6 linked regions of the Homo sapiens genome follow. The protein of the gene in region 6 purifies or fractionates together with the protein of the main gene of each other region. This does not show direct contact. Each region holds a gene or a part of one and is shown on either strand. Other genes may lie near its edges. The genes, in order: ERLIN2, RER1, WDR48, ERC1, SURF4 and SLC16A6.

Region 1 (2,644 bases), on a different chromosome or scaffold from region 6:
GTGATTAATAGCACGGAAATGGGAGGAAGATGAATGTATTTTAAATGGATACTCCCTATGCTAGTCTTGGGAAATGACCTTCTTTTCTTGAGACGGAGCCTTGCTCTATTGCCCAAGCTAGAGTGGGATGGCATGATCTTGGCTCACTGCAACCTCTGCCTCCCGAGTTCAAGCAATTCTCCTGCCTCAGCCTCCCAAGTAGCTGGGATTACAGGTGCCTGACACCATGCCCGGCTAATATTTCTATTTTTCGTAGAGATGGGGTTTCGCATGTTGGCCAGGGTGGTCTCGAACTCCTAACCTCAGGTGATCCGCCTGCCTTGGCCTCCCAAAGTGCTGGGATTACAGGTGTGAGCCACCGCGCCCGGCCAAGGGAAATGACCACCTTCTGAAAGGACTCTGGAGCACATTAAAATCCATCACTCCCAGGCACATTTTGTTGCCTGCAAAAAGTGTGCCCAGGACCAGAAGTCCCAGGAGTCAGAACAGAGAAGGGCAACTTTGAAGTAAGGGGAGCTAACACTGTATCTTTCTAGGCAGGCTCAATGCTCCCAAAACTTCTGAGCAAGCTGGCCCAAGCTCTGGGACCATTCCTTAAACCAGAAGTCTGGGCATGGGCCCAAAAAGAAGGCAGGGATTGCTGCCAGAAAGGACCATTCACAGATTCACCTAGGGAAGATGGGTATAGGAGTTGGCGGGGGGGGGGGGTGGGGGGTGGGGGGTGGGGGTCAGCTCATAACAGGGCCAAGTCCTAAGCCAGAGGTGGTCATGGAGGGCACCAATATGCTTGCAAGTTAACTCCAGATAGCTGCCCTCCACTTAATTCTAGACACAACCCATGGGCTATACAGGTTGGACACCCCCTACCCCTCAATCTCAGGATATAAGAAAAACCTTTTGTTCAAATTTGCTCTCCCCATCCTGAATCTCCCAAGGTGACTCAAAATGTTCTGACCTAGTAATGAAAAAGAAAACCCTTTGAATGGATTTTGGCACAGCCATTCCAACCTGGGGACTTGGGCATGAACTCTGATTTGCTCCACACAGCTGTCTCTGGAGACTGAATGTTCAGCCTGACTTGCGTTGCTGCCTGCAGCCCTGGATTTAAAAACACAGGCTACTTAGTGAATAGAGTCCTTTTATCACTAAGTCAGACCCACTCCCAGCACAAGCCACAGGCATTAAGACCAGGACATCTCTTGACTGATCGTTCCTCCTCCTCCACACATGGTGTCAGACCTCTTCACTACAGAATCTCTACAATAATAGAAAGACACTTCATCTCGAGGTGCACACATAACCTGTCAGGCAGGTCCTGCAGTGGCTAAGAGATAACAAGGATCCCACTCCAGCAGCTGTTAAGACACTTGAGTTGTTTGTCCCTGTCTTCTTGATGCTGAGTGGAACCAATGAACAGAATTTTTGAGAAGAAAAAAAAAAAACAAATCACAGCATAGGTGAAAAGATGCCGAAATAATTGAGTTGTGGTGATCAAGCTCTGACTCTAGAAATGTAGTCAGAAACCACCACTCTGAGCCCTAGGGCAAGGAGCAAAGTGTATACAAAATCTTGCAAAACCTAGCACCAGTACTTCCTTATGAGGGCTCAAGAAAGCACACCTCTAAAATAACTCACACACATGCAGACAAGAATGCCAGGAAGGTCAAATGTTCTCTGCAGCTGTTTCTTCACAGCTCTACTGGCAAACTCACAGGCACATATTTGCTCAGTTGCTGAGCCTCACCCACAGACATCTCCTACCTTGGAGGCAGAGGTGAGAACACTGGACTGCATTTTCCCAAGTAAGGGAAATCAAATGAGTTGGAGGTAACACTCTACATTTCTCCCTCTCCTTAATGACAGCATCCCTAATTAAGCCAGCCTCAAAGGATAAAATTAGTGTCTAGAGGTCAAAGGTCAAGCCCATGATTTACAAATCTTATTGGAAGTCATATAAACTGCTTACCTGAAATAAAACCCCCCATCATCAGTCCCCACCCTCCTTTCCCTAGAAAGGGAGTGGATTTAAGTTCATTTCTTCTTTTTCACCACAGTAACTGGAAGACAGTCAGAGAAGGTAGTCGGGGAGGGAGGAACATTCTGATTCATCTTAAAAAATAAAGATCTGCTTAAGTATCATTTGCAGTCATATCAAGTTTTTTTCAATTCTCCTTAGTGGCCGTCTCCAAGGGTTCATCTTCTAAGCCAAAGCTTAGCTTGTCAGCTAGCCCCTCAAACTGCTTGCTCACACTGCCCGCAGAGTCCATGAACATGTTAGGAATGTCTTTGCCAAAGTAAATCTTGCTGTTGGAAGCAATGGCCTTGTACTTCATCAGCTGCAGATATTCAGGGGTTAGCTTCAGCTGTTAAAAAAAAAAAAAGTATGGAAGACTTATGTTGAACCATATTAGAGAAGGAGGGGAGTGGTGCCCCTTCAATTTTCCTATATTTATGCCCCTACCTACTTTTTGTGGTCTCATTGTTACATTTCTGTAAGAGACAGTCATCTCAGATCTTGGAGCATAGGTGCAAAAGTTAAAAGTTTCCATGTTTAACACAAAATTAAACTAAACTTCTATCAAGGCATGTCCAAGGAGAAGGAAAGTACCTGCACCACACAGCAAAGGCATCCTCAGTTCTGCCC
Region 2 (3,500 bases), on a different chromosome or scaffold from region 6:
AGCTTTTCCAGTCAGACGGCTGAACGCCAGATGTGAGGGCTAACTGATGTCTGTGTGTCCATCCCTGGCTGAACGCCGGATGTGAGGGCTAACTGATGTCTGTGTGTCCATCCTCGGCTGAACGCCGGATGTGAGGGCTAACTGATGTCTGTGTGTCCATCCTCGGCTGCAGGGCCACACCTGAAGAGACGCCAAATGAGGCACGAGCTTGGTTTCGAACGCAATAAAACTGACCTGTGGGTGCTGCACTCTTCCCGCCCCCTGCTCCTGCCTGAAGTCCCTGATTCAAGATTTCTAGGTCATTCTTTCCATCAGAGAATGGACCCAGTTCCAATTTAAAAACAAAAATAAATAAATAAATTAAGGTGTGTGCTTTAAACAAGGAAGTATCTTCTACAGTCCCCAGAGGAGAAAATAGCCCAGACAAGGCTTTCAACATGCCCTGCTCTGCACATAAGATTATGTAACCTCCTCTAAAGACCGACGAAGAATTCCCATCTTACAGGTTTGCTCCTAGAAACCCCGTGTTTACCAGCAAGTAAAGGAGCACCCAGGTGAAGTCTGAGACGACATCACCTGACCTAGGGGTGCCCGAAAACACACGAAGGAAACCCTCAAGACCCCCTTCGGTCACTGTCTCTCTTACTTGACTCGGCGTCTCAACCTGCACTGTGCTTTGGCCTCACACAAGGGAGAGCTCAGGAAAAGCTACATAAACCCTTTGGACGCCGAGTCATTCATGACACCCAAGGCATGGACTCTTCACCCAAGGAATGAGGCAGCCACAGAGCGCAACCTTGTCCTGAGCATCATGCAGCAGGGTCGGAGGGACACCAGCGGCTCCACTGTCCAGGCCTGGACGTGCCCAGGGCAGGGCCAGGCTGGGCTCAGGACGGCCTGGGTATACTGAGAAGCCTGGCGAGGCGACTCCGGGTGAATCATAAACAACCCTGTTCGTTAAAGACAGTCACTGAGATCTTTCTGACATTTGGCGTTTAGCTGAAAATTGATTACTAGAGACCACTTCCTGCAAGACAGACTGGATCAACAACATCCCCACAAACATCACGCCCAGGTAACGTGGACAGAGCCAAGTCTCGTCACTTCAGCCCACACCTACCTGCAGCAGGTAAACTCGAATCATGTAGACAAAGCTCAGGCCCAGTGTCACGACCCATCGCACAGCCGTGTAGGGTGTGGACTTGTCTAGCCAGGACTGATAAATCTAGAAAGACAAGAGTCCAAAAGCATGAAGCAGGTCCTGTAACTTCTGTACTGACCCTGCCACAAAATGTACCTTCTGCTAGGGTTGGCTTTCAATTTTTAAAACAGCTAAAAGAGTGAGTTAAAATAGCAAGAGATCATCTATGTATCAGCACAAAGAAGTGACTACAATTAATCCAAAGTTTATTTTCAATAATTCCTGAAGCAGGTTCATCTCTTAAGCAAGACTATTACAAAACAATCTCCTAGGAGACTGTGACATTGTGCTGGCCCCAAGGGATCACTATGGGGAAGACCCAGCCTCACCCCAAAGAGAGGACTGTGCATCTCAAAGTCCCCACCCTACAGCACAGCCCTTATCGTCACATCTCAAGTCAGCTCCCCCATCTGCAGCAGCCAGCAGCCAGCCTTGCCCCGCTCCCAGGCCCACTGGCCACAGCCTGAGCCCCAGCAGCCACACCCACATGTGTGTGCGTCCAGGCGGCTGTGGACATGACCGAAGGAGCCCTTAGTTTTATGTATTTATTTTTACAAATATACATATGTATGGTTTTTTATTTTAATTTAGAAATTTAATTTTCAAATTGTGAGAAATTTCCAAATTCACAAAAGTAAAAAGATTATAGAAGCTTACATATGCCTGTCACCCAACTTCATTAATCGCCAATCGCTTTTCATATGTGATTTAATTAAGGTGATGAATTTTTATTTGAGCCGGATCCTCAGCACCTGGAACTGCCGGTGACCCAAGCTTTTCCTGACAGAGGTTCGGACTCCAGCGTTCAAAGGCAGCTCTAGGTCCCTCACTCACCAAGCAATGCACACGCAGCCCACACAAGAGCCTCTCACCCTCAAGGACAGAACCGCCGAGCTGACACGGGGCAGGTGGGGCTACCAGCACCGGGGACGTGGGTGGCTGGGAGAGGGACAGCAAGAGCAGAACGGCAGCCACGGCCGCATCTGTCCTGCCTGGGAGCTGAGACTGGGTTTTATATTTTTAAAGCTTGGTAAAAGGAAAACAGAAACAGAAAACGCATATGTTTGATAGACCACGTGTGGCCCCAGAGCCCGATCTCTCCACAGCTGGCCCTTCACAGTGAAGAGAACGCTGTCTTCAGGAAGTTTGAGCCTGAGGCGAAGTAACTTCTCCATCAGGAACACCAGCAAACAGATCCTTCCCGAAAATGCTGGGAGTCCCGTTTCTTTTTCAAATATTTATACTCATCTACTAAAAAACCCACCAACCTGTCCAAGTCTTGTGAAAAATCTGTACACCACCGAAGGTTTCCCATGGACGGATTCTCCCACACTGTCCCCTTCAGACATTCTGTAACTGGGAGAAAAACACAAAATACTTTTCAGTAAAAAGCATTCACGGGTGTGAAATCCTGGCCCTATTTTCACCAACACTGTCAAGTAGGTTTCTTCCACATTCAGTATTTTGTCCATATACCATTTGTGTTTTTACCATGAATTGTTCGGGAAAAAGTAGCAGGTACACAGGCTTCCCTGGAGAGGAAGGGCAGCGTGAGACGCATGGGCCCAGGAGCACAGGCCGCATTTTCATTCCCACACTGGCACCTCAGTCACCTGCGTGGGCGGGACTGTCCACCCCACTGGCCCCAGGAGCAGCCTTGCTGGCCATGGGGTCCACTGGCTGGTCCATGGCACGTGGCACTGCATGTCCTCCCTCCAAGGACCGCACCCTCTGTGGATCCCTCAGGGTTCCCCCGCCCAGGCACCTTGTCTGCTCCACGCCCTGTCCTGGGTCTCTGGTCTGGCAGGAGCAGGAGGGATCCTGTCCTCTCAGGGCCAGGTCCTCCACCCCATGAACAGGAAAATGTTATCTACAACTCTCAGGTAGTCCATCCATCTGCGTCCCAGTTTCTTATCTGGCAAGCGGAGGTAACGTATCTGCTCCTATTTCAACACTGCTGTGATGCCATGAGGAATTCACCTGAGAACCCAGGTGCCAGAGGTCACATTGTTCACCCACTTAATTCCCAGATGCTCAAGTGAAGGGCATCATGACCCCCATTTCACCAAGTCTCAAACAGTGGAAGCCACGTGTCCAAGGTCCTGCCACAGCCCTGCTTCTGGGCAGGCCAAGCCAAGCCTGACTGCCACCTGGCTCCTCAGCTGAGCACGCCGCCACCCCACTCCTGAGAGGAGACGGCGTCAGGACCTGCCGCTCTTCGGTAAAGCACAGCTCAGTACCCAGGGCCTGCCGGTTGTCATTCCTACTTTAAAGATGAGAGGCCTCCTGGCCCCTGAGC
Region 3 (3,500 bases), on a different chromosome or scaffold from region 6:
ATTTAGATATGCTGCACAGTCTCAGTTAAAGGAAATGTGAGCTAGGTAAGCAGCCCTGGAACCCCAGAGAAAGAGAGATTGAGAGAGGCTGAAGTTGACATTGAAGCTAGCTTGGTTCCTGGTGGCTTTGGAAAGCCAATTCATGCAATGATACGTATGTCTTTTATATGCCAGACACTATAATGGGGGCACAGGGGTGGAAGGAACAAGGCAGACAAGTCCCTTGCCTTCTTGGAGCTATTATTCTAATGGAGAAGATACACCAAAAAATATAAATGTGGCTGGGCGCGGTGGCTCACACCTGTAATCCCAGCATTTTGGGAGGCCAAGGTGGGTGGATCAGAAGGTCAGGAGTTTAAGACCAGCCTGGCCAAGATGGCGAAACCCTGTCTCTACTAAAAATACAAAAATTAGCTGGGCGCCATAGCAGGCACCTGTAATCTAAGCTACTCGGGAGCCTGAGTTGGGAGAATTGCTTGAACCTGGGCAGCAGAGGTTGCAGTGAGCCAAGATCGCACCACTGCACTCCAGCCTGGGCGATACAGTGAGACTCCGTCTCAAAAAAAAAAAAAAAAAAAAAATACAGAATGTGGTAAGAACTGTTAAATAAGTAATGTAAGATAGATAGGGTCATAACCCTGAGGAGAATGAGATCAGAAAGGCCTTTCCAAGGAGACCTTTCTCCTAAGATCTGAAGAGTAAGGGTGAGTTAGACAAGATGAAAGCTGGAGAAAGAGTATTCCTATAGGGATTCGAGGGGTGGTGAATCTTCATGACACTGGCAACAGTAAATGAGAAGGTACTGGGATGGGAAAGAGCTTGATGTGTTTACGGTAACAGAAAGGAGTTTGGAATGACTGTCATAAAAGAAGCTGGGGGCAGTCAGTTTGAAATGAGTGGGGGATGCAGGGTCAGAACTAAGCATTTGAGGAGTTTGAACTTTAAATTTTGTGAAAAGCCATTGGAAAGTTTCAGCAGAGAAGTGTCATGATTTGATTTTTTAAATGCCTCTTATAAATGATGACTGTATTTCCTGACCTTGGGCTCTGTTAAGATATCCTTGTGTTGAAGTCTCCTTTAAAAAACAAACAAACAAACAAAAGCTGGTTTGAGTAGATCTCAGTTACAGTTAATTGCATCCAAAAGACTGGGTTAAAACAACATCCTTGTAGCTATTTGTGTCTGCAGCCCTGGCCCTTTTTAAAGGACAAATTTCTGGAAATTGAATTTTAAAGAACATTTCAAAGAGTTTAAAACTTTTGTCAGAAAGTGTTTATTTATCCTCAGGGGAAACAAAAATGGCAGTTATTTTAAAAAATTCTTGTATTATAGGTAAAATAATCTCATATTAATTTTGTCTTTGATTATTTATGGGGTTTTTGGCCATTTCTTTTTTAAAAAGTCCCTTTTTGTAACTGTCCCTCTTTCTGTTGGTAAATTTGACTTTTTCTTATTTTATAAGGAATCTTGTTAAGAGTAAACTTTCTTTCATATTTATTTCATTATTCTCTTAGTCTTGCTCGTGTTACTTTTTGACATTCAGAAGGTTTAAGAAAATAATAACATTGTGATAAAATTCACATACCATAAAGTGCACCCTTTCAAAGTGTACAATTCAGTGATTTTTTTGTATATTCGGAAAGTTGTTTATTGGTCACCTAACTCCAGAATGTTTAATTACTCTATGTTCATTAGCAATTACTCCCCGTTTTTCATTTTTCCCTCCTTCAATCTCCTGGCAATTACTAATCTACTTTCTGTGTGGATTTGTCTATCCTAGACATTATATATAAATAGAGTCATAAAATATGTGGCCTTTTGTAAAATATGTGGCTTCTTTCACTTAGCACATTTTCAAGGTTCATCCACGTTATAGCATGTGTCAGTACAGTGTGTGTGTGTGCATATATATATATATATATGCACACACACACATCACATTTTATTTGTTTTGTCCATTGATGGATATTTGGGTTGTTTCCACTTTTGTAACATTATTGTGAATGCCACAATGCTGTGAACATTCTTGTACATAGAAAAGGTTTTGACTTGTATTTGGCCAGATCACCATTGCTCTTTTCCTTCGTAAAGATTACCATCTTTCTTGGCATGTTGGAAGAGTTTTCTCTGGCAAGGGACTATGTAAATATTCACCTGTCTTTTAAAAATTATTTTTATGCTGGCCAGGTGCAGTGGCTCACGCCTGTAATCCCAGCACTTTGGGAGGCTGAGGCGGGTGGACCACTTGAAACCCAGCCTGGCCAACATGGTGAAACCACCATCTCTACTAAAAATGCAAAAATCAGCTGGGCACAGTGGCATATGCCTGTAATCCCAGCTACTCAGGAGGCTGAGGCACGAGAATTGCTTGAACCTGGGAGGTAGAGGATGTAGTAAGCCAAGATCGGGCCACTGCTTTCCAGCCTGGGTGACAGAGCAAGATTCTCTCAAAAAATAAAAACAAAAATTATTTTTATGGTTATTAAATTTCAGTCTTTAATTCATAGAAAAATTCGTTTTTGGTTTAAGATGTGGAGAAAGGGTATAATTGTTCCTAATAGAATCACTATAGGTACTTGAGATAATTTTTTTTAATTATTATACTTCAAGTTCTAGGGTACATGTGCACAACGTGCAGGTTTGTTACATAAGTATACATGTGCCATGTTGGTTTGTTGCACCCATCAACTTGTTATTTACATTAGGTATTTCTCCTAATGCTATCCCTCCCCCAGCCCCCTACCCCCCAACATGCCCCAGTGTGTGATGTTCCCTGCCCTGTGTCCATGTGTTCTCATTGTTCAGCTCCCACTTACGAGTGAGAACATGTGGTGTTTGGTTTTCTGTCCTTGTGATAGTTTGCTGAGAATGATGGTTTCTGGCTTCATCCATGTCCCTGCAAAGGACATGAACTCATCCTTTTTTATGGCTGCATAGTATTCCATGGTGTATATGTGCCACATTTTCTTAATTCAGTCTATCATTGATGGACATTTGGGTTGGTTCCAAGTCTTTGCTATTGTGAATAGTGCTGCAATAAACATACGTGGGCATGTTTCTTTATAGTAGAATGATTTATAATCCTTTGGGTATATACTCAGTAATGGGATGGCCGGGTCAAATGGTATTTCTAGTTGTAGATTCTTGAGGAATCGCCACACTGTCTTCCACAGTGGTTGAACTACTTTACACTCCCACCAACAGTGTAAAAGCATTCCTATTTCTCCACATCCTCTCCAGCATCTGTTGTTTCCTGACTTTTTAATGACTGCCACTCTAACTGGCATGAGATGGTATCTCATTGTGGTTTTGATTTGCATTTCTCTGATGGCCAGTGATGATGAGCATTTTTTCTTGTGTCTGCTGCAGAAATGTCTTCTTTTGAGAAGTGTCTGTTCATATCCTTTGCCCACTTTTTGATGGGGTTGTTTTTGTTGTTGTTGTTGTTGTACATTTGTTTAAGTTCTTTGTAGATTCTGTATATTAGCCCTTTGTCAGAT
Region 4 (3,500 bases), on a different chromosome or scaffold from region 6:
ATTAGTAACTCTCCATTTCCCCCTACCCCCGGCAACTACCATTACACACTTTGATTCTGTGAATTTGACTATTTTAGATACCCAACACATGTACTATTATTTAATTTTATAAATGAGGGCACGAGGCTTAGAGAGGTTTAAGCACTTGTCCAAGATCACAGAGTAAGTGATAGAGCTGGCATTCAAAGCAATCCTTGCAGCCCACTAAAACTAGAACCAAGAAAAAAAGAAAACTCCAAATCAGCTTTCCTCCTCTAGTAGCAAAAACAGAGCAGATTGCAGAAATCAAAACTGGTAATACCCAAAGATAATAATATAGCAAAGTTTTTTTAAGTTAGAATATGCAAAGCTTTTTATACAGGGGACGGTAACAACATGGGTGGCTAATTAAATAAAGGTGTTAATGCAGATGAACTACTAAAATGTTTGAGAGGGTAGATCTTTAGCTTCTATCCCTAAAGAAGGTACACGAACCTTTAATCTGAATGGTTATGTAAATTCCAGCACATTATACAATGAATTCCAAAAGGCTGTGACATCAAAAATCTTATTTTTAGGAATGAAGAAGCAACAATAAAAGATCATTCCTTGTATTCAAGGCCTAAGCAGTGTACCATACTGGGAAGAACACGAAACTGTGATGAGAAAACATGAGTTTCAGTTCTGACTCTCACGCTGACTAGTTATGACATTTAGACATGTCACCATCTTTCTGGGTTTCAGATCCCTCATACTTTAAATAAGGGTATAAATACCTGCATTATCCATTGAAAAAATCTTTTTTTTTTTTTGGAAATAAGGTGGCTGCTCTATTAGTTCGTTTTCACGCTGCTGATAAAGACATACCCAAAACTGGAAACAAAAAGAGGTTTAATTGGACTTACAGATCCACGTGGCTAAGGAAGCCTCAGAATCACGGTATGAGGCAAAAGGCACTTGTTTAATTGGACTTACAGTTCCACATGGCTGAGGAAGCCTCAGAATCACGGTATGAGGCAAAAGGCACTTCTTACATGGCGGCAGCAAGAGAAAATCAGGAAGAAGCAAAAGCGGAACCCCCTGATAAACCCATCAGATCTCGTGAGACTTACTCACTATCACGAGAATAGCATGGGAAAGACTGGCCCCCATGATTCAATTACCTCCTCCTATGGCCCTCCCACAACATGTGGGAATTCTGAGAGATACAATTCCAGTTGAGATTTGAATGGAGACACAGCCAAACCATATCACCTGCTAATGATTTTCAGCCTTAAAAAGGAAAGAAATTCTTACACATGCTACAACACAGATGAACCTTCAAGACGTTGTGCTAAGTGAAATAAGCCAATCACAAAAAGACAAACACTATATGTATCCATTGACATGAGGTATCTAGAGCAGTCGAATTGATAAAGAAGGAACTAGAACAGTGGTTGCCAGGACATAGGAGTGGGACAGAACGAGGAGTTATTGTTTAATGGGTATACAGTTTCAGTCTGTCAAGATGAAAAGAGTTCTGGAGATAGATGGGATATACTGAATGCCACTAAACTGTACACTTCGAAATGGTTAAGATGGTAAATTTTATGTTATATATATTTTACCATAATAAAAAAATTGGTTGGAGAGAAGATGTTGGTCATAAAATTCCACTTACGGATATTTTAGGTTAGTTCTCATTTTTCACTATTGTAAGATGCACCTTCACATATGTATCTTTACACATGAATCCACATTTTTCTTGGGAACTCTCAAAGATGGAATTGCTGGATCACAAAGTATGTACAATTGTAATTCTGATACATATTACAAATCATTTCTATATGTATCTTTGTATATCAACTTTTGTCATATTACAAATCATTTCTATCTGTATCTCTGTATATCGACTTTTGTCATATTACAAATCATTTCTATCTGTATCTCTGTATATCGACTTTTGTCATATTACAAATCATTTCTATCTGTATCTCTGTATATCGACTTTTGTCATATTACAAATCATTTCTGTCTATATCTCTGTATATCGACTTTTGTCATATTACAAATCATTTCTATCTGTATCTCTGTATATCGACTTTTGTCATATTACAAATCATTTCTATCTGTATCTCTGTATATCGACTTTTGTCATATTACAAATCATTTCTATCTGTATCTCTGTATATCGACTTTTGTCATATTACAAATCATTTCTATCTGTATCTCTGTATATCGACTTTTGTCATATTACAAATCATTTCTATCTGTATCTCTGTATATCGACTTTTGTCATATTACAAATCATTTCTATCTGTATCTCTGTATATCGACTTTTGTCATATTACAAATCATTTCTATCTGTATCTCTGTATATCGACTTTTGTCATATTACAAATCATTTCTATCTGTATCTCTGTATATCGACTTTTGTCATATTACAAATCATTTCTATCTGTATCTCTGTATATCGACTTGTCGTATTACAAATCATTTCTATCTGTATCTCTGTATATCGACTTTTGTCTTATTACAAATCATTTCTATCTGTATCTCTGTATATCGACTTTTGTCATATTACAAATCATTTCTATCTGTATCTCTGTATATCGACTTGTCATATTACAAATCATTTCTATATGTATCTCTGTATATCGACTTTTGTCATATTACAAATCATTTCTATATGTATCTCTGTATATCGACTTTTGTCATATTACAAATCATTTCTATCTGTATCTCTGTATATCGACTTGTCATATTACAAATCATTTCTATCTGTATCTTTGTATATTGACTTTTGTCATATTACAAATCATTTCTATCTGTATCTTTGTATATCGACTTTTATCATATTACAAATCATTTCTATCTGTATCTTTGTATATCGACTTTTGTCATATTACAAATCATTTCTATATGTATCTTTGTATATCGACTTTTGTCATATTACAAATCATTTCTATCTGTGTCTTTGTATATCAACTTTTGTGACTCCTCTCTCCTTGTTCTTTGCCCATTTTGTTATTGAACATTTTTTCTTAATCCATTTTAAGAGCTCTTCATATTAGGAAAATAACCTTTCACCTGCTGTGTATGTTACAAATATTTTTCCAAGTCTGCCATTTTTCTTTTAACATTGTTTATGATGACTTTTAATAGATATTTTCTTTTTTAATACAAAGACAATGACATTTTCCTTTATCATTTCCGGTTTGGGTATTATGCTTTTAGCAAGCAGTGAGCTTTCAATTCTGGTAGTCTTCAAACACTTGAAAAGCACTGCTATTTCTTTCGAAGAATAAACTCACCAAAAAAAAAAAAATCAGGAATTTAAATTCATGAATATAAATTTTAAAATGCATTTCACTACCAGCATCATCTTTTAAAGATTAACAGTTGCTGGAGTTCAAAAGACCTTCAATAAAAAGATGTATCAAAATGCTAATTCTCTGAAGCCTAGTTTCTTTCCCTTGGAAGTCAAAAAAAATCCTGACACTCCTGAGTGAATATATCCCAAAGGGAAATACCAGAAGTGA
Region 5 (3,500 bases), on a different chromosome or scaffold from region 6:
CCAATGCAGAGAACCAGCACAAGATGCCCATGTGCACAGTGTGACGCAACCTGCATCACACTGGGTGGTGGGAAAGGTGACGCCACACACCCTCCCCAGGTTCTGCCTCATGGCCCCGTTGCTCTCTAAATGCCCAGCAACAGTGTAATCACCCATATTCCATGGAAGAGAGAAAGCACACCACCGTGGCACACGATGTGCCACTGCTCTCAAGGAATGGCCTCACATCGTGGCCCAGCTGGGAAGCCCCAGCAAGGACACAAGCCTTTATCTCATCTGAACCTGGGGAAAAGCAACCACTGGGAAGGAAGAGCTCAACAGGAGGCTGTCCAGACCTCTGAGATGAGACGGAGCCGTGGTGGGACTCCCAGGGCAGGGTGTGGGTGTGGGGCGTGGACCCCAACAGCAGCAGAGAGGTAGACTGCAATCCATACCCAAGACAGACACCAGAGGTGTTCTGACTTGCTTCTAAAATGAGAGCTGTGAGCCACTCACTGGCCTGAGATGAGCAAACCAGCCCAGCCATGGGCTGCGGTCTAAGCCTCCCCCAGTTGCAGGACCTGCATTTAACATGCTCATCTACGTGCACAGCCCACGAGATTGAGGCAGTGTTTAAAAGTCTCTTTGAATGAGTCTGCGACTCTTAATTTGAGTGTCTGGGTCAAGAGGATTAAAGAGCAAAAAAGAGAGAGAAGGTGGGACAGGCAATTCACACCTCCTTCCCTGCGCAAACATGGTGACGAAACAGACACAGCTCTTGGCTTTGGGGAAAAATATGCAAAAATCTAGGTACTGCCTTCTGAACTGAGCACACCTACTGCTTGGCTGTCCTGGTTTTCAAAGGCAAGCCTGGTCCACACTGAAGGCTGAAGTCAGGCTGATGCAGTCTCCTCTAAACTGGCCACCATTTAATGAGCATCTGTTTGGACTGAACACTGAAAAAGCCACGTTTAAAGACAAGGCCCAACATTAACCTTATTTCCTACATGCATGTTGGTCACAACTACTTCAACTTGGCCACTGGAACCATGTCATGCCACTCTAGAACACGTCCCAGAGCCAGTGTCCCCTCAGCACAGCAGAGAAGAGCCCTCAACACAGGCAGGACACACAGCACCCCAGGACAGACAAGAGCAGCCGCACTGCAGGCACTAAGGCCATTGCTGGTAGCCAGCACACAGGTGACCTGTGTAAACACGGCGAGCACATAAAACTTGTGACAGTCCCCCTCCCCCCCATTAGAGAACTGCGACAGCAGAGCCAGAGGTGGCTGTTGACCTGGCAGGCTGCAGGAAGAAGATGACAGTTAGCTCACCTCTGTGGCCAAGCTTCTCATTAAGTCTCTCCGAGAACCGCGCCATCAAGCAGGATATGGTTCATAAGCAGTGACAGCATCTGAGGGGCTTAACAGGAAGACTGATATTTCTCTCAAAGGGGTGGTTATTTTAGACGACTGAAGGGGATTTTAGAAACGTAATTAATTATATCCACCCTGAGATGACTTCCTGGGCATCCAGTGATCACTGTCACAGCCACCTGCAGCTCCCACGCCACACAGAAAACTCCACTTTCTCTTCACACTCAGGACAGAAAGAAATTGAGGAAAGCAGCTTGCAAATTCGTGGTGAATGTGAACATCGACGAAAAAGGCAGGTCAGATTTCCTTGATCACCAAGGACTGGGGCTGCCTTGTTCAAAGCCCAACTCAGGTCCCACACATCCTAGAAACAAGCACCTGCGGCCCAGCGGCTTCCCTCACATCAGCCTGTCAGAGCTGGCTCGAGCTCACTGGCTCACTGCAGCTCCAGAACTTCCCCGAGCCCCGCTCCCATGCTGCTCTATAGGTTCACACTGCACCCTGCAGGGCCAGAAAGGATGTCGCCAGCCCAATGTGGGAGATGATGGCCTGGCTTTACTAAAAAACTGTGTGATCAAAATCCCAACTATAGGAAAGACGTAACTGAGAACGACTGGGCCCCATGTTCTGGGAGGAGCCCCGCTAACCACAACCTCCTCTGCTCCTCGCCCGCACTCCCCTGAAGAGTGAGTTTTAACCTCCCGTTAAGATCATCACACAAAGAAAAGTGAGTCAGCTCCTCTTTGCCTTCTCTCCCCACTCCTTCATGATATAGGGCAGGGTATGACAGAGCCTGCCACTGTCACCAGGACTTTGCCACACCAGTCACCAGCATGGTGTTCATCGGGACCCTCACAGTGCCTGTGCCACCTGCAAGTTCAGGGGTCCTCAGGCCTATCCTTGCTTCCCCAGCACTTCAACTAGGGCCGAGGCCAGCTCCTAGGGCCCAGGACTAGCTCTGCCACTCTTGAGGACAGGTTAAAAACACCAAAGGTCACACTGGAGAGGAAGGCCCCATGCAGCTTTTCTGTCACCTTGGTGATGAGCCACCAGGCAGAACCCATTAAGTGCTAATATTGCTGTTTATGGGTATAAACTGCTTAGAAGCTACATTTTACAGAGTGTCTAATAGGCAATGAGGAGCAGCTGCAGGCATGGACATTAGTTTGGATTGCTGAGTTCATTAGTTTCTGGACCCTTCCCATGGCTTCCAAATGCCAAGCTCCTGCATAGAGCACGTCTCAGCAGTTTCTACAGAGCATGGCTCCTGGGAGCAAGAGGACACTGTCCCTGGCTGCCAGAGCAAGCAGCTTGATGCCAGAGGCAGAGAGACAAGAGATGCAACTGTGGGGAGCCTGCCAGCAGAAACTAACCAGACTGCTCGTCCCCGTGGACCAGCCTCTGCAGGCCAGAAGGAAAGATCAGTCAACCAAGCAGTGAGGAACCCAGCCTTTGGGGTAACAGGATGCGGACTCAGTCTCCAGGCCACCACAAGCCAGTGCGGCCAGCCAACCTCCCTCTGCCCATCTGAAGATGGTGACGCTCTGGCCAACCTCCTACAGTCAAGAAGTTCACAAAAGGAATGTCTATCATGGACCCGGCCCAGTGAAAGACTTAATGTCATTGTCATAATACTGGAAGACACTGGGCCTGGGAAACTAAGCTTACTTAGGTCTTGCTTTCAGCAGCCCACACTTTCTGGTCAAATCTTGTCACTTCAGTTTTGCTCTTGTTTTCTGAAGATGTGAAAAAATGGATGTGTCACTTTATCTGATCAGTGACTTCCATGGTAATCCTCTATCGGCTTCAAATTAGGTCATTTTCATGTAAAAGCCTGGTCTGGCAGCTTTAAGTACTATGTGAATAAAGAGAAACAAAGCCCCACCTGGGCTTGGTCAGATTCTGTCCACAAGAAGCCATATTTTGACTTCGAACCCTGTTTACTTGCCTGCATCTGTCTGATTGGGGTTTGGGCGAGTACAAGTAGCTGCCCTCCCAAGCTGCCCACAAAAGGGCATGGAAGCTCCCACAGCCATGCTCTGCCACCACCTAGACGGACTCTTAAGGAGATCATCTGACGGCGGCAGCCTGCGCTGCCTTACAGATATGGTGCCTTACAGATATGGTCCTAACCCACTTGGGT
Region 6 (3,500 bases):
ACCATCTGACCTTTAGCTTCAATTCTTTGGCCTTCAGTTTCCTCATATTTAAATCAAGAGGGCTGGCTCAGGTAATCTCTAATCCCTGGCAGCTCTAAAATTCAATGGAAATATAAAACGGCAGTAAGTTTTTTTTATGGCTTGAACAGGAAGCTAGCACAATTCACAAGGGAAAGTAGACAAGTGTTTGTATTTTGTGTATTTAAATTACCTGCAAGGGGCGGTCCAGCCAGTCCTGCTATGCTCTGAATGAAGATGTAGACCCCAGCTGCAGAAGACATCTTCTCAATGCCCACGACATCATCCTCAGCAAGCAGTGGAATGTGAGTCCCTCCTATTGTTCCAACCATAAACCCAAAAAATATGCTGCATGACATTAGACCCCAGAATTCAGTAGCAAAAGTAAAGGCAAACAGAGACACAGTCAATAAGATGACGCAGATGAGCTCAATGTAAATCTTACGAATGGGCTCCCTGTTGAGGACAAAACCAGCTCCGATCCTTCCGAAAACTTCTGCAATGGCCATCGTAGATAATAAAAAAGCAGCGCGGTCCTGGTCAATGCCCAGACTAATGCCCAGAGGAATGATGTACAAGGAAGGTGCAAAGAATCCCAGTGTTGCAAAGAGACCAAATAATGCATAACAAATAAAACTTTTCTCTTTCAAAATGGAGAAGTCTAATAGCGGGGCTTTCTTTTCGCTTGGCCTGGGGCTGGTCTTCACCAGGACCTGCTGCATGTCGGCCTTCGGCTCCAGTTCCAGGTTAGTGTGAGTAGGCACATTTTTAGGTGAGGTAGTTAGTTCTACTCCTGAGTCAATGGAGTCTATTGAGGTTCGTGTTTTCTCATTTTCAAGCATATACTGCGCTTCTTTCCGATTTTCCTGGATGACTATTTTCGGTGACGCTGGTCCTCTGATAAAGATGGGTCTGAGCAGTGCTCCGAAGATGACAATGTTTAACTGTAGTAGGCCCACGAAGAGGAGGCTGTATCTCCAGCCAATGCGCTCCTTCAGAGCCATGATTGCTTGAATAGGCAGGAGTGAAGAAGAAATAATATAAGGTCAATAATGGACTCAAGACCCAGGAGAAGCCATCAAGAAGAAATATGGATCCAGATTTTGTTATAAGTTCTGTGGAAATTTATTATACTCAGCAGTATGAATGTACTCAATCTTTATTTATTTACTTTTTGAGACAGAGTCTCACTCTGTCACCAGGCTGGAGTGCAGTGGCCTGATCTCAGCTCACCGCAACCTCCACCTCCCGGGTTCAAGCGATTCTCCTGCCTCAGCCTCCTGAGTAGCTGGGACTATAGGCGTGCGCCACCACGACCAGCCAATTTTTGTATTTTTAGTAGAGACAGGGTTTCACTGTGTTGGCCAGGATGGTCTCGATCTCCTGACCTCCTGATCTGCCTGCCTCGGCCTCTCAAAGTACTGGGATTACAGGCATGAGCCACTGCACCTGGCCTTTTTTTGTGTGTTTTAAGTAGAGACAGGTTTTTGCCATGTTGGCCAGGCTGGTCTCGATCACCTGACCTCAGGTGATCCGCCCACCTCAGCCTCCCAAAGTGCTGGGATTACAGGTGTAAGCCACCGTGCTCAGTTACAGATTTTGTTTTGAGATGATCTACACACAGATAAGAATGCTGTGTTTATTAGCATAATCTAAATCCACATTGAATGTAGCTCTTTTGAAAAACGAGAGGACATAACAGGTGAATAATTGCAAATTACTAGATTATTCTGGAATGCATGTGTCAAGAAAGCCCTACCACTGCATATGTGCCCAGTTAGGAATTGAAACCTATTATTAAGGTGGTCTGAATACCTAAAGTGGGGGTTAGGGAGGACAGATCCTAAAAATGAGCTGGAGAAGAGACGTAAATAACGTCTCATTACACATACACTGAAAGTCATCCATACTGTTGGCAAAAGTTAGCGTAGCAAGAATACCTGAGTGACGTCTCTCATCCACATTCATACTTAGGCTGTTGTAGTCCACCTACCTGGTGCGAAAGCAAACACAGCGAAACATTCTCCTGTGGAAGCAACTGCAGTGACTATGGAACGTCTTTTGCCAAAATATTGTGATAGGATGGTTACAGTTGGGAGAAAACTAAAGCAGTATCCCAGACCTGTGAAAGAAAAGTCAAAAAAGCCAATGAGACCCACATACTGCTTGAGACTGGAAGGATGCATTAAAAGATCTGGGATTTTTGGTTTTGCTTTTTGAATCTTAAGTTCTAGGAGCCAAGTAATTCATTCTGGACAAAGGTGATGTTGCAAAGAAAAATGGGTTTCATTAACGGTCTGGATAAACTTCAGTGGTTGTTTGGGATACTAAAAATATAACTTTTTTTTTTTTTATCTTTGCAACACTTTTTTTCAAATTTATATAATTCACAATGGATGAAACTATTATTGCATGAAATTTTATATAAGATTTGTATCTAGAAAGAAATAAGTCATTTCATATGTGCAGAAATACAGGAAAAATTTAAAGTCTGCAAATCTTAACAACTGTGTGTGTATCTATCATCTATGAGGAATATATGGCCTCCTTTTATTGTTCATTTCATTTTTTTTTTTTTAAACAGACAGGGTCTCACTCTGTTGCCCAGGCTGGAGTGCAGTGGTGTGATCACAGCTCACTGGAGCCTTGACCTCCCAGGCTCAAGTGATCCTCCCACCTCAGCCTCCAAAGTGATAGGATGGTTACAGCTGGGACCACAGGCACGCACCACCACGCTTGGCTAGTTTTTATTTTTTGTAGAGATGGAGTCTCCCTATGTTGCCCCAGTTGGTCTCAAACTGCTGGGCTCACGTGATCCTCCTGTCTCAGCCTCCCGAAGTGCTGGGATTACAGGCATGAGCCACCATGCTGGCTACTCCTTTTGAATGGAAAAAGGTTTTCTTAGGCCCCCAAGAATAAGTCTGGCATGTTGCACTTCCCCTACAGCCCTGGATCCTCAGACACTGATGTGAGAAATACTGGCTACAGAAATTCGTCTTACTTTGTAAAAATGCTATCTTTTGGCTGCAAATACAGCAAAAGAGAAATTATCATCATCTTTGGTGAAGATCAAACAAAAACCCTTGGGCACTTGAGAACAGATTCCCAGGTCCCCTGAAGTCCATATAGCTCAGTTCAAAACTACTGATCTGAGACACTGTTAATGTTAAAGAAAAAAAGAAAGAGAAAGAAATATAGTTTGGCTTTAATTTCCTCCTTCCCCTTCCTTGTTCTTCAAACTAAGTGTCTAGACAACTTCTGAGCCAAAGAGGAACACTTACCAGAGATGATGCCGATGGCGACGTACATATGAGAAACCTCTTGTGAGAAGGAGGCGGCCACCATCCCGGTGCTGACAAGTAGCCCCCCCAACATCACTACCAGACGGTGTCCGAAACGATTGCTCAGGACTGTGGCGAGGGGAGCTGCCGGGAAAGAACAAAACGATATTTTAACTCACAGAGGCTTCAGGGTTAGCTGCC

The links.
Region 1: the proteins of SLC16A6 (region 6) and ERLIN2 purify together in Homo sapiens (affinity purification with mass spectrometry; one large-scale study listed by BioGRID and IntAct). This does not show direct contact.
Region 2: the proteins of SLC16A6 (region 6) and RER1 purify together in Homo sapiens (affinity purification with mass spectrometry; one large-scale study listed by BioGRID and IntAct). This does not show direct contact.
Region 3: the proteins of SLC16A6 (region 6) and WDR48 purify together in Homo sapiens (affinity purification with mass spectrometry; one large-scale study listed by BioGRID and IntAct). This does not show direct contact.
Region 4: the proteins of SLC16A6 (region 6) and ERC1 purify together in Homo sapiens (affinity purification with mass spectrometry; one large-scale study listed by BioGRID and IntAct). This does not show direct contact.
Region 5: the proteins of SLC16A6 (region 6) and SURF4 purify together in Homo sapiens (affinity purification with mass spectrometry; one large-scale study listed by BioGRID and IntAct). This does not show direct contact.

What each region holds. Positions count from the first base shown.
Region 1 is NC_000008.11:37,753,634-37,756,277, reverse strand, and holds part of ERLIN2 (erlin-2), read right to left. Parts: intron 2,364-2,644; coding exon 2,163-2,363; 3' UTR 1-2,162. UniProt on the Homo sapiens protein: Component of the ERLIN1/ERLIN2 complex which mediates the endoplasmic reticulum-associated degradation (ERAD) of inositol 1,4,5-trisphosphate receptors (IP3Rs) such as ITPR1.
Region 2 is NC_000001.11:2,394,841-2,398,340, reverse strand, and holds part of RER1 (protein RER1), read right to left. Parts: intron 2,558-3,500; 5' UTR 2,551-2,557; coding exon 2,470-2,550; intron 1,226-2,469; coding exon 1,121-1,225; intron 1-1,120. UniProt on the Homo sapiens protein: Involved in the retrieval of endoplasmic reticulum membrane proteins from the early Golgi compartment.
Region 3 is NC_000003.12:39,058,516-39,062,015, forward strand, and holds part of WDR48 (WD repeat-containing protein 48), read left to right. Parts: intron 1-3,500. UniProt on the Homo sapiens protein: Regulator of deubiquitinating complexes, which acts as a strong activator of USP1, USP12 and USP46. Enhances the USP1-mediated deubiquitination of FANCD2; USP1 being almost inactive by itself.
Region 4 is NC_000012.12:1,078,223-1,081,722, reverse strand, and holds part of ERC1 (ELKS/Rab6-interacting/CAST family member 1), read right to left. Parts: intron 1-3,500. UniProt on the Homo sapiens protein: Regulatory subunit of the IKK complex. Probably recruits IkappaBalpha/NFKBIA to the complex. May be involved in the organization of the cytomatrix at the nerve terminals active zone (CAZ) which regulates neurotransmitter release.
Region 5 is NC_000009.12:133,369,561-133,373,060, forward strand, and holds part of SURF4 (surfeit locus protein 4), read right to left. Parts: exon of another isoform or gene 1,362-3,500; coding exon of another isoform or gene 1,316-1,361; intron 1-1,315. UniProt on the Homo sapiens protein: Endoplasmic reticulum cargo receptor that mediates the export of lipoproteins by recruiting cargos into COPII vesicles to facilitate their secretion.
Region 6 is NC_000017.11:68,270,628-68,274,127, forward strand, and holds part of SLC16A6 (monocarboxylate transporter 7), read right to left. Parts: intron 3,444-3,500; coding exon 3,300-3,443; intron 2,141-3,299; coding exon 2,012-2,140; intron 1,028-2,011; coding exon 212-1,027; intron 1-211. UniProt on the Homo sapiens protein: Monocarboxylate transporter selective for taurine. May associate with BSG/CD147 or EMB/GP70 ancillary proteins to mediate facilitative efflux or influx of taurine across the plasma membrane. The transport is pH- and sodium-independent.